Linked DNA regions of Homo sapiens: region 2 is linked to region 1. Evidence: fine-mapped expression QTL. Tissue or cell type: cerebellum. Region 1 holds a variant in brackets; the other region holds the start of a gene. All regions are shown on one strand. Distances are between the middles of the regions.

Region 1 (6,935 bases):
CATCGCCACACCTCCGTTCTGCATAAGAAGGTACAGGATTTGAAGGCCTGCACCAGGGTGTCATCGCATCTCATCTCCACCCTGGGAAGAATTTGGAGCTGCCCAGAGACTGGAAGGAAGTTGTAAGAGGCAAAGAGCTCCCTGTCCAGGGACGTATGCAAGCAGACTCTGGACAAGCACTTGACAGGGAGACTGTAAAGGAAGGATAAGCAGCAGGCAGGTAGATCTGGATAATTTCTAGGTTCCCACATTAATTTCTGTTATTCTACCAAACCCCAGAGAGACAGTATGCTTGTTTCCTGTGGCTGCTGTAACAAATCACCACAAACCGAGGGACTCCAAGCATCACGAATTTATGATCTTACAATTCCGGGCTCAGAAGGGGTCTAACTGGGCCCGTTTTGGAGGCCCTAGGCAGGAATCTTTCTTTGCATTCTAGAGGCCTCCTGAATTCCTTGGCTTGTGGCCTCTTCTCCCATCTTCAAAGCCAGCAGCACAATATCTTACAATCTCCCTCACTCTCTGTCTTTCACAGAGACACACACAAACACACACATATACACACACACACACACACATGCCTTCATACCTACCCCGCTTCCCCACTGCATTCGTCACCTCTCAGCTCTCACCTGATAGGGAGCAGCTGCCAGTGATGGGTTAGGGGCTCCAGAAACACTAGGATTTCTGCCATCACACCACTCACCCAGAGTGTCAGCTGCCCTCATCAATCTCCTCCGAGAGGATAGCAACTCTGTCATTCACTGTCTTTTCACCCATCTCAGTGCCTGGCACACAACAGACTCTCGATAAATAGATAGACATGCATCTGGCAAATGAAGAACCCATCCAAAGGCAATGGCCGATATCTACCTCAGAGATGTTCACCTGCTCGTTAACTCTGACTCTTCAGCTCTCCTGCATGATGGGGTCCGTGCCCGATGTAAGACATTAAGAAAACCAGAAGAGACCTTTTGGCGGAGACAAGGGCTTACCTGATTTGTGGGCAAATTCCTGCCTGGATTTTTAATATTCGGAGCAGCCAACTGCTGAAGGAGCCTCAGAAGGGGGCAGAGAAAGAGCTGGTGGGAGGATGCAGGTGATTCGTGGTGAAGGAGACATTTGAGAACAGAACACACGTGCGGGGGTCCACCAGCCTGTATCCAGTGCGGCGTCTCATAGGGAGCCCCTGGTGGGGAGCCACGTCAGGCTGTCCTGCGTAGGTTTCTTAGTGGGCTTGTGCCTTAATCTCTGAGTAACACGAGTAGTCACCAAGTCCATTCAGCCACACCTTACTGGTCATCCGCTCTACCTGGCTGCGTGCTGGGTGCCGAGAAACAGATGAGAAAGACTGTCTTTCTCTCCTAGAGAAGGGCATGGTCATTAAAGGAGACAGATGCCAGGAGGCAAGTCAATGTATCATGCATAGGATGCGGAGGAACCCTGGAGAGGGCCAGAAAGCAGATAGAATTCCCGGATGCACACTGGCATGCATTGGGCTCGGCAGGCAAGCTTGTGTGTGTTGGGCTCGGCACAGGCTGTTTCTCCTTGTCTCCACCTGCCCTGGGAATCAGCACGAGGCACCCTCTCCTCTGGTGTTCTTCCCATTCATCCCACTCCTGGCTTGGTAGAGTGAGAGGTGGCGATTCTCTTGCACCTGGCCCAGTGCACAACAGCCTCATTCCTTGTCTCCCCACTGACTGTGACTCCTCAGGGGCCCAGCATCCACCATATCTCAGTTGGTACCAGTGACAGCTTATGGCTACAGCCACTTACTCATTCATTCTCATGCTCAATGGGAAGGCCTATAAGCCTCTTTGCAGCTCTGAGCTCAGCTGATTTACCCAAGAAGTCCCATGAATAACCACACACGGTATTGCGGGTGGAACAAGGTCAAGTCTCCCAGCAGTACATTTATCTCACAAATGACTCCTGTTTTCCAGCACAGCAATGTCTCCTTGATCTAATGGTGCAGGACTTGTTTGGTCCATGGGCTTGTTTTTCTTCCCTGCTCTGAATTTAAGCCCATTCCTTGAGCACATCCAGAAGCCCTAGAGCATTTTAAAGCAGACCTAGAGTCCCCAGCTGGGGCCAGCTATTCTGCCAGGGAGGCCCATGCCCCAGGCACTATCATGGAGGGAGTGTGGAGACTCCTTCACCCAGAAGAAAACACATCTGTGCCTCCACTTGCCACCTCCAAGCACACACAGTTCTGCCCGAAGGCCGCGGTCCCTATGTCATCTTGCTAAAGGTGTTTAGAGAACACATTCTCACCTACAAAACAGGAAGGCACAGCTTACAGTCCCTGCCCAGGGCTTTTACCACCAGAAACTAGATAAATAAAACACTGGGGCTGGAAGGAACCTCAGACATCGCCCAGCGTGATGCTATCCTGTTTACAGACAGGGAATGGAGGCCAGGTCGAGAAGGGATTTCTCCTGGCAAATACAGTGGGGACAAGCTGGAGCCGGGCTTCATCCCTGTGGTTGATCCTCAGTCCAGCCCTGTGTCCAGGATGCCATGCTCTGGTTCACCCATCCCTGTGGGCTGCATCTTTGGTTGTTTTGTTCTGGGAATGTGGAGCTTGCCCAGGATGCTCCCCTTTCCTCCTTTGTTGGAGGAAGCTTTGGAGGCAGGAAAGTCCAGACATAGCTCCAGGGCTCCACTGCTCTTCCCAGCTTCACATCCCCCGAGGCCCTCAGTTTCCTCGCCTGGGAATTGGGAATAACCCCATTCACTTCATTGGCTGGCTGTGAGGGTCATAGCGTTCCCAATGGCAGCTGGCCTGGTGGCTGCTGGTATGTAAGTCATGTTCAGTGTTAAGGAAGAATCTTCTCCCTTTTGACAGTTCCTTCTTGCTTGTTGCCTGATCTTGGGCAGCCTGAGGACCCCAACTCATCTCTGCCTGCAAGAGTCCTGCTCCTCACCCATCCTGCCCTGTGGGATGGAAGAATGGCAGGAGGACAGGGCCTGAAGTCTCATCCCAACCCATGTGCCTCCAGCTTTGTGACCTCCAGCAAGTTGCTGGAACTCTTGAGCCTCAGTTTTCCCACCTGGAAAATGGGACTCTTTTCTGTGGCACCTACCTCACAGAGACAATTGCTGGATTTAACAGAGACAGTGCTATTAGCTCCGATCACTTGGAAACACACAATGGGCCTGGCATGAGGCTTGCTCAGTCATGCTATATCCTGTTGATTCCTCACTATGGCCTTTTGAGTGAGCCACTCTCACCAGCCTCATCTCACAGATAAGGAGATGGAGGAAACACTGAAGAAACTTGCCCAAGGTCAAAGCCAGAAGGCGGTGACCCTGCTTTGCACCCACGGCGTCTAAGTGGAGAGCCTAGACCTTTACCTGCCACTGTCTTGGGAAGTTAGCCCTGAGGGAGATGCACTTCTTGAAAACTAACCCTTCCTGAGGGTCTGCTCTCCCTCGGGGCCTGTGCTGGGAGCTTGAGGTAGAAGAGGGTGGGGGTACTCACACTCCCCACACATACGGCCGCTCAGTGAGCCCATCCTCCGGACCGAGAGACACACACGGCTTCTGAGAGGCTGGGGGCCCTGGCCCAAGGCTCACCTACCTGGTTAGCGATTGATGGACGAGGACACCGGTGGCCTGACCGCAGCTCTGC[A/G]TCCCTGCTCCACTGCGGGCTGCCTGGAGGGAGGGATGCTCAGTCATCCCCTGCTAGTCCCTTTCCCTCCTGGCACTATATCCATTTTGACAAACCGTGCCATCCAAACCCAGGCCTGACTGCCCACTCCTCTCCTCTGACCCTCCCCTCCTTCCATCTCTGTCCTCCTCTTATCCCCCACCCCTCTCCATCTGCTGTTCCTGCCTTTTCAGGAAAAGTCCCTGTGCAGAAAGAAATTTCTTGCTGAAAGTGTGGGGGAGGCAAAGCCACCCTCTGTCACCCCCTCCTCCAGGCAGCCCCTCCTCTTAACCTGGGGCTTTCGTGTCTGAGAGGATTCCTGTCCCGACCCTGCCCGGTGGGCGTGCTGGCTTCCTCTCTGCCACCCTGGATGGACCGCAGCCTGCGCTGGCCCCACAGGAAGTGGAGGCGTGGAGCCGCCCTGGACCACCCCCAGCCTGCATAAAGGGGCGGTCGGCGAGGCTGCACCAGCGCCTGGCACCATGAGGACGCCTGGGCCTCTGCCCGTGCTGCTGCTGCTCCTGGCGGGAGCCCCCGCCGCGCGGCCCACTCCCCCGACCTGCTACTCCCGCATGCGGGCCCTGAGCCAGGAGATCACCCGCGACTTCAACCTCCTGCAGGTCTCGGAGCCCTCGGTGAGTCCCCCGCCCGCTCAGGACAGGGGTGCATGGCAGACCCAGTTCTTAAACCCTTGCCTTTACACGAAAAAAAAAAGAGAGAGAGAGAGAAAAGGATATTTTTCTTTTCTAGTAAATGTAAATCTCAGGAGTATTTGTGTTTTATTCATCTCCTTTTAAATATGATACCAATGGTTTGCTTTCTTCAAAACACAAGAAAAAGTAAAGACAACACAATTTTTGTGACTTACTAGCAAATATCAAAGGATCTGTTGTAAAATGTAAAAAAAAAAAAAAAAAAAAAAAAGAAAAAAGAAAAAAAAAGGAGTGGGAGGATGGGGAGAAAAACAGCTCCCCATCAGAGTTAAGGAGGACGGAGGAATGAAGCTTGTGTATTGCTTTTGTTAGCCTAGTGAGGAGTGTGCCCTAAGAGGTGGCTCACAGAACTGGCCTCCGCCCCTCATCTGCTGAGGGACCCGGGCAAATTTCTCAGCCTCTGCCTTTCAGTTTTCTTGTCTGTAAAATGGGATGACAGTAGCACCCCTCCCTTTAGAGTGGCTTTGACGATCAAAGGCAGGTGTGAACACAGGCAGGGCTCACAGAGCCAAGCCTACAGGAACAAGTACTCAACAGATGCCAGCTGATGTGAGCACGATCTTCAGAGGCAGATCTGGGGACTCAGAGAGGGGAAGACCCGGGAGGGCTTTTGGGGACTAGAACCCAGGCCTCTGCCTGCTTCTCCGTCGAAACAAAATGCATTAAACTTCATTAAAAGCTTTTGTAAAGTTTCAAAGTGTCTTTTAATCACTTGCAAATGCTTCAAACAAAACATAATGTTTCTCAGATGTTGGGGTTTACAAAAGCCTAGCTAACACCTTCTTGGTATTTTCTTTTTAAAAGTTAAATAACATGTATTTTTTCCCTAATTATAAAAGTATTGTACTTTGTAGAACAGTTGGAAAATAAAGTACAAAGAAGAAAAAAAATCTTGCTTGTAATTCTACCACCTAGAGGTAGCTGCTGCCGTAGCATTGTGGAGGATCATATTTCAGCTTTCTGTCTACATATAGGTATTCAAATACGTGTGTGTTGTGTGTGTGTGTGTGTGTAAACAAAATTTGGGTCAAACAGCACAAGCAGTTTTGCAACTTACTTTTTAATGACACTATCAAATAAGTTCATTTTTGTTTTAACATTTTGTTGTACAGTTTCACCACAATTTACCCACAAGTTTCTTGTTATCGAATATAGACAGCAATCATCTTTTAAAGGAATCTGATTTTAAAAGGTTTAAAAAGTTCAGAGGCTCTGAACCACAGAGCGGGAAGAAAGTGGAAAGATTATGCATTCTAAATCTCTAATTTCACAACTGAGGACTGAAGGAAGGCACTTGCCCATGGTCACACGGGGATTACTGAGAGGGCAGAGCACGAGGGCTTTTGCCCTTCAGCCCTGCGCAAAAACGGAAGCCCAATATAGAAATATAAAAGTATGCAAATTTATGCACTTCGATATTACTATATTATACACTATATACAACTACATATTAGCTATAGAATGCCTATAGAACAATAGGTATTATTACATATATCGTACTTATGTAAGTATATATAATGTCTATAATTACATGCAGTTATACAACTGTTATATAGCTAATATACTTATATAAGTTATTATATAAGTATATTATTATATAAGTTACTATATAACTAACTTATACAACTGTTATATAACTAAATAGTTATAGAACTGTTTTATAGATGTACATATATACTCTGTATGTATACTTGTATTACTGTATTATATATCACTATTTCTATATTACAGTTATAGGACTGCTTTTATGTATATACGTGTATGTATATTTCTGAATGGGTATGCATATAAAACAGCTCCCTGGTTCATAGCAAATGATATAAAAGTTGTATTCTAAAAGTCTAATTCCGGAAGCGCAGTCGCCCATTTCTGGAGGAGTGTGACGTATGACACAAGAAAGTACTGTGCATGTCGTAGCATCAGGGAGGGCCCCAGGGATCTGGGCTGGTCTGGCTGTTGAGAGGGCCACTAGGGAGACTTTTGTGACCAGGTATGCCCCTGTGGGCATCCCAGAACCCCTTATCCCTTTCCACAGGAGCCATGTGTGAGATACCTGCCCAGGCTGTACCTGGACATACACGTAAGAGGGTTCTCCCTGGGGGAGGGAGGTCTTGGGCTGAGGGACTCAGGTCTGAACCTCTGCTGCTGGCTGTGTGGCACAGAGTCAGGGAGAGATCTTATGCAGCTCAGTCCCTGTTCCTCTTGCTACTGACTTCTCCCACAAGCCCCCTCCCCATTGCCCACTCCCAGAATTACTGTGTGCTGGACAAGCTGCGGGACTTTGTGGCCTCGCCCCCGTGTTGGAAAGTGGCCCAGGTAGATTCCTTGAAGGACAAAGCACGGAAGCTGTACACCATCATGAACTCGTTCTGCAGGAGAGTAAGTGGATGCCATTGAAAGTCTATTTTCTACTTGCTATCAGCCAAGACTTTCTGAGCTTTTCAAAGAGGAGAGTTGGGAGGAGATGGTGACAAGGAAGAGGAGCAGAGATGTTTCGCAGATGCTTTCAGTTCACAAAGCCCTTTCTCAACCATGGTTGCCTTGTTGGGTGATGGGGTTCAGGACAAGGC
Region 2 (5,000 bases), 870 kb before region 1:
GCGCTCCAGCCTGAAGATGGAAGTGGCCTGGTTCGCCACGTGGGGCTGCCTGAGGGAGCCAGCAGTGTATAAGGCAGAGCATGATGCACGGAAATGAACTGTGTGTGCAAGGACCCTTATACACAGTATGCAGTTTCAGGAGGGTCCGATCGCCTCCTCTGCATGGGGAGAAAAGAGTGAGAGGAAGTGATATAAAGTCAGTGACACGCAGTGGGCGCCACAAAGGTGTGTTAGATGAATGTCGAATGATTAGTTGCCCAAGACTGCATGCAAAACAGGATTCTAACTCAACCACCTAGACTCTTCTGCCTAAACTAGGTCCCTTTATCTCTTATCTCCCAGTGGGACCACCTCAGTCAGGCTCTTGGGGAGAGGAAAGGGTAGTTGTTTCGATGTGGACTCTGGCACCAGACTACTCTGTTTAAACCTCGAAGTCTTACTTGCCAGCTGTGACCCTGGACAGGTTATTTATGTCTCTGAACCTCAGTTTTCTCATCTGTAAAATGAGGCTAAAATGGCAGTTTCAAGGTTGCTGCGAGGCATAAAAGAGTTACTATCTGTTAGGTGCTTACCATGGTCCGGGCACGTAGTAAACTTTCTATAAGCAGAAGCTATGAAGATCCTTTCCTGCTTCTGCATAAAGACAGCACTTTCTCAGCTCCTTCCTTGCGTCACTCCCTCTAGTCTTGGCAACTGCCCAGCCCTTTCTCACAATGGAAAGGGTTTTCTTTAGAAGCAGTAAGATTTCCATCACCACCAACAAAGCCTGAGAGACTGTGTCCTCAAGATGTTGAGAGCAGATTCAAGCATGCAGTAGGAGGCCTGGCCTCCAAAGTTCCACCTAACTCAGACTTTTGAGTTTTCTGATATTTCTCTGGGTTATGTCACCCTGAACATTTGTGGGGTTTTAGAAGAAATTTCTATGTGGTTTTCGACATGAATTGTTCTTGCCTGGAATGGGCTGGGAATAGTATTTCACAGGACAGAGAAAAATTTTCATTGAAAAATCGAAAACACTTGCAAGATAGCCTGGAGGCTGATGGGCCTCAAGAGGAGTGTCTGTGGCAAATCTGCACAGTGGACCCAGGGACACAAGGAGAGAGGAGCCAGGATGCAGCTGCGGTGGGTGGAAGGTAGATGGAGGCTGTGTGTGGAACTTTCTGTTCTCGCATTCAGCACTCTCTCCCCCATGAGAGTAAACACTTGTTGAAGACAGAGACTTAGAAATACTCATCTGTGTCCCCACACTAGCCTCTCTCTCAAGCACAGAAAAATAACTTGCTAAATGCCCACCGAGTGGATGAGCCCACGCTCTAGGCCTGGCTGAACCTCCTTGAGATTGAGGCCCTGAGGGAGCCATTTCACATCTCCCCTCCTGTTTCCTCTTCCAAGAGGGGGCCGGTAAAAATACCTACCTGCTGCACAGACCCCTTGTTGCAGGGTTGAAAGACAGTAGCTTCAGGGAGGTGTCAGCTGAGGCCACGGATCCGACGGCCCCAGGATCCTCAGTCCATGGGGCCCAAGAGTCATAAAACAAGAACATGAATCCATCTGTCTGTCTGGTATTCCTGGAGCTTGGTCACGCTGCGGGAGCTCTGGCTTGCAGCTGGCAGGGCCCGGGGTTGAAGGGACAGCTCCCAGCATGGAAGGCTATGGGTGGGGGGACATTGCAAGAAGCACTGATGCTCCCCTCTGCAGTCCCCACCCAGTCCTGACTTTGCTTGTCTAGACTGGCTCGAGGAGGGGGTCGGCAGCTGGCGATTCTGCCTCTCCAGGAAGTGCAGCTGGGACTGTAGGGTCCCCAGGGACTTGCAGGATCCTCTGCCTGATAATCGTGGAGAAATAAGGGAAGGTGTCTATAGGAGGCAGGTGGTGCCTGGCCTTAGAGGAGAGCCCCAGCAGAGCGACCTCCACGACAGAGAAACCCCAGAACGCCCAGACTGCAAGCTCCAGGAGCAACAAAAGTGGACTGTGCCCCTCGAATGAGGGAATATCTGTCTGTCTGGTTGACTGCCAGCTGTGTGTGTGTGGTCATCTCTGTCTCTGTGTGTCTTTCTCTGGAGCGTTTTTATTTAAGCTTTTGACTTCCTTTATTACTGGTGTGGACTTGTGTGTGGGCATCCTGTTGCCAGTTTATGATGCACATGTGTGGAATCGCCCTGAGCTTGCCTTTGATATTGGTGTGTTGTGTGGTGTCATTGGCGTGCACGTGTATGTGTGTGTCGCTGATTCTCATGCAAGAATGTGCTTCTCTTATGTGTCTGTCGGAGTGTGCCTCTAGCATGTCCCTCTTGGCTGCTGCACCACCTTTCCTGGCCCTTACCACCTCTTGGCCCACCATATGGGTGCTTTTGTATCCAATTCCCCTCCTTAGCAGGTCAGCTCCTGGAGGGCAGGCACTTGGTCTCTTTTGTCCATGGCTCTGTTCCCAGCTCCTACAACAGTGCTAGGCACTAGTGGGCGCTCAGCAAAATAAAACTGACGGAATGAACGGTGTGTCCAACGCATGTGCCTCTCCAGTTGTGCAATTAATCTTGGTGTGATACTGTGTGTGAGTGGGGTTGTGAGACAATGAGGATTTCTGTTGTGTGTTTGTAATGAACTCGGAATGTGCACAAGCATATATGTGTATGTGTGTGCAACATTGAGTATGGTGTGCATGATCGAGCCCCTGTGTATCTCTGGAGAGCATGTGTGATTGACTCTCGTGTGTGTGCCAGCATGTCTGTGCATCTCTCATGTGTTTGGCGTAATTGTCTGGTGTGCAGGTATGAACCCGCGTGTGCCTCCAGAGCGTGTGGGCGCGCGAGTGTACGCACACGGCTCCTGCCCCGCGCTCTCCTCGCGCCCTGCGCTCCGCCTGGGGGCGGAGAGTGGGGGGTGCGGCGAGGGCACTGCGGTGCCGCGGCCCGCCCTCCGCGCTGCGGCTCGGGAGCGTCACCGTCCCTCCCCGCCCCAGCCGCGATCCCCGCCTCCTGGTCCTTTGTAGCTGGCCGCGCCGCTAGCCCGCAGCCGCCCAGAGGCCCCGCCCCGGCCCCGCCCCGGCGCGCGCCACGCCCCGCCCCTCCCCTCCCTGGGCCGCAGTCGCGCCCGGGCCGCCGCAGGCCCGCACCGAGGCGCGGAGCGCGGCGCACGGCGGTGCCCAGGGCCGCGGGCGGGCAGGCGGGAGCGCGGTGGGTGGCCGGCCTTGGACGGGTATGGCGGACCGGCGGCGCGCGTGGAACACCGAGGACGACCTGCCCGTGTACCTGGCGCGGCCGGGCAGCGCGGCGCAGACCCCGCGCCAGAAGTACGGCGGCATGTTCGCCGCGGTGGAGGGCGCCTACGAGAACAAGACCATCGACTTCGACGCCTACAGTGTGGGCCGCCGCGGCTCGGCGCGCACGCCGCGCAGCGCTGGCCGGCCCGACGCGGTCGGGCTGCCAGGGCCGGGAGGCAGCGAGGACACGGCCAGCGACGTGAGCGAGCCCTCGGGCTCCGCGGTCAGCTCTCCCGGAGAGCGCGACGAGCGGCCGCCGACGCTGCGCATCCGCCGCCCCGCGCCCCGCGACCTGCCCCTCGGCCGGGACAATGGCCAGGTACCCTCGGGGCGCGCGCGGGCCAGACGAGGGGGGCGGGCCCCGGGAGGACCCAGGGCATGGGGCGCCCGAGGGCCATGCCCGGGCCCCGGTGTTGGGGCAGCGGCCGCCAGGCTGGGGAGAGCCACGGCGCGGCCCCTCCCCCACCTCATCATGCAAGAGGTTCCCAGAGCTGGGGCGACTCGGTCGGGGCTGGCCGGCGTGGTCCGTGAGACTCGGAAGGGATCGCCCGGGTCCAGTCCCGGCTCCTCTTCTACAGAAAGGGAGAGAGGTTCTGAGAGGGGAAGTTGGCTAAAGCTACCGCATGGACGCTTAAACGCGAAGGAACCTCTGGGATGAATCTAACCCAGGCCCCTCATTCTGTTTTGTGAAAAGAACTGGAGCTCCGTTCCGTGTTGGTCCATTCATCCATCCACTCAGTCGGTAGTAATTATAGAGCACCTACTGTGTGCCGGGCCCCGGGAGAGGTTCCGCGAGTCGCCTGCGGCCACACAGCTTAAAGCTGGAAGGAGCTTTTTTTCCGAGCGCTCCCCTCATGCTTGCTGGGGGGAAGGATTTGGTTAAGGATTTAGTTCGTCGGGCAGTTGGAGCCGTAAACCCCTACCCTCAAGCGCCAGTAGATTCAAGGGGCACTCCTGAGCTCCACAGCACACACCGATGTGCCTGCTTCACAGAGCAAGGTGGAGGTAGAGCTGGGATTTGAACTGGGGTCTCTGGCCTCCCGGACCTGAGCATGGGGCCGGGAGGATCAGGGAGAGGGAACGCTAGGGCTTGGGCCCTGCGGGTATTCTCTCTTGAGCTGGGGGTCACCAGGAAACTGGGGGAAGAAGGGCGGATGGACGGCGTAGCCTTTGGATGGACCGACGAGAGCCAGGGTCAGGTGCCAGAAAAACGGAAGTTGGAGCATCCGAGGGCTGGGGAGCTTTCGAATTGGTCCAGACCTGGATGCCGGAGAACTGCTAGGTGCCAGGCCCAGGGTAGGCGCTAGGTCCCTGGCTCAGCAACCTGGCCCCACCCTCCAGAAGTTCCCAGGCTAGGGTGAGCGACGGATTCATTGTGAGAATTAAATCAGTTAATGCCGGTCGGTAGTGAGCATTCAATAAATGTTTGTTGTTGACTTTTATTACAATCATTATCATTTTAATTAAACCTTCCCCTCTTAAATGCTATGAGTGACCCAAAGTGAGCCTGGAGGGAAGCAGAGCTTGATCGGGGCAGATATCTGGGAGGGCTTCCTGGAGGAATAGGAGCAGGGAACTGGTAAACACGGTGGTGGGCCTCTTCGGGCCCCATCCCTTCGCGGGCGGGCTGTTGCTCCAGAGCTCTCCGTGGTCCTGAAGCCGGAGCCTCGCGAGGGAGAGGTCCAACAGCAAGGGTGTGTGTGTGTGTGTGTGTGTGTGTGTGTGTGTGTGTATGTGTGTG

What was found. PIP is the estimated chance that this variant, and not a neighbour inherited with it, causes the effect.
Region 2: it holds the start of CRMP1, and the variant in region 1 is fine-mapped to the expression of CRMP1 in cerebellum (GTEx, PIP above 0.99).

The regions. Positions count from the first base shown.
Region 1 is chr4:5,016,645-5,023,579 of GRCh38, reverse strand. It overlaps CYTL1 (cytokine like 1), which reads left to right and starts at 4,122. Exons shown (of 4, transcript NM_018659.3): 1 at 4,122-4,287; 2 at 6,401-6,445; 3 at 6,616-6,744. The coding sequence starts at 4,135. It also overlaps a transcript of STK32B not described here. The variant A/G (reference allele first, on the strand shown) is at 3,635.
Region 2 is chr4:5,891,167-5,896,166 of GRCh38, reverse strand. It overlaps CRMP1 (collapsin response mediator protein 1), which reads left to right and starts at 3,081. Exons shown (of 14, transcript NM_001014809.3): 1 at 3,081-3,578. The coding sequence starts at 3,198. RefSeq lists an enhancer at 4,476-5,000.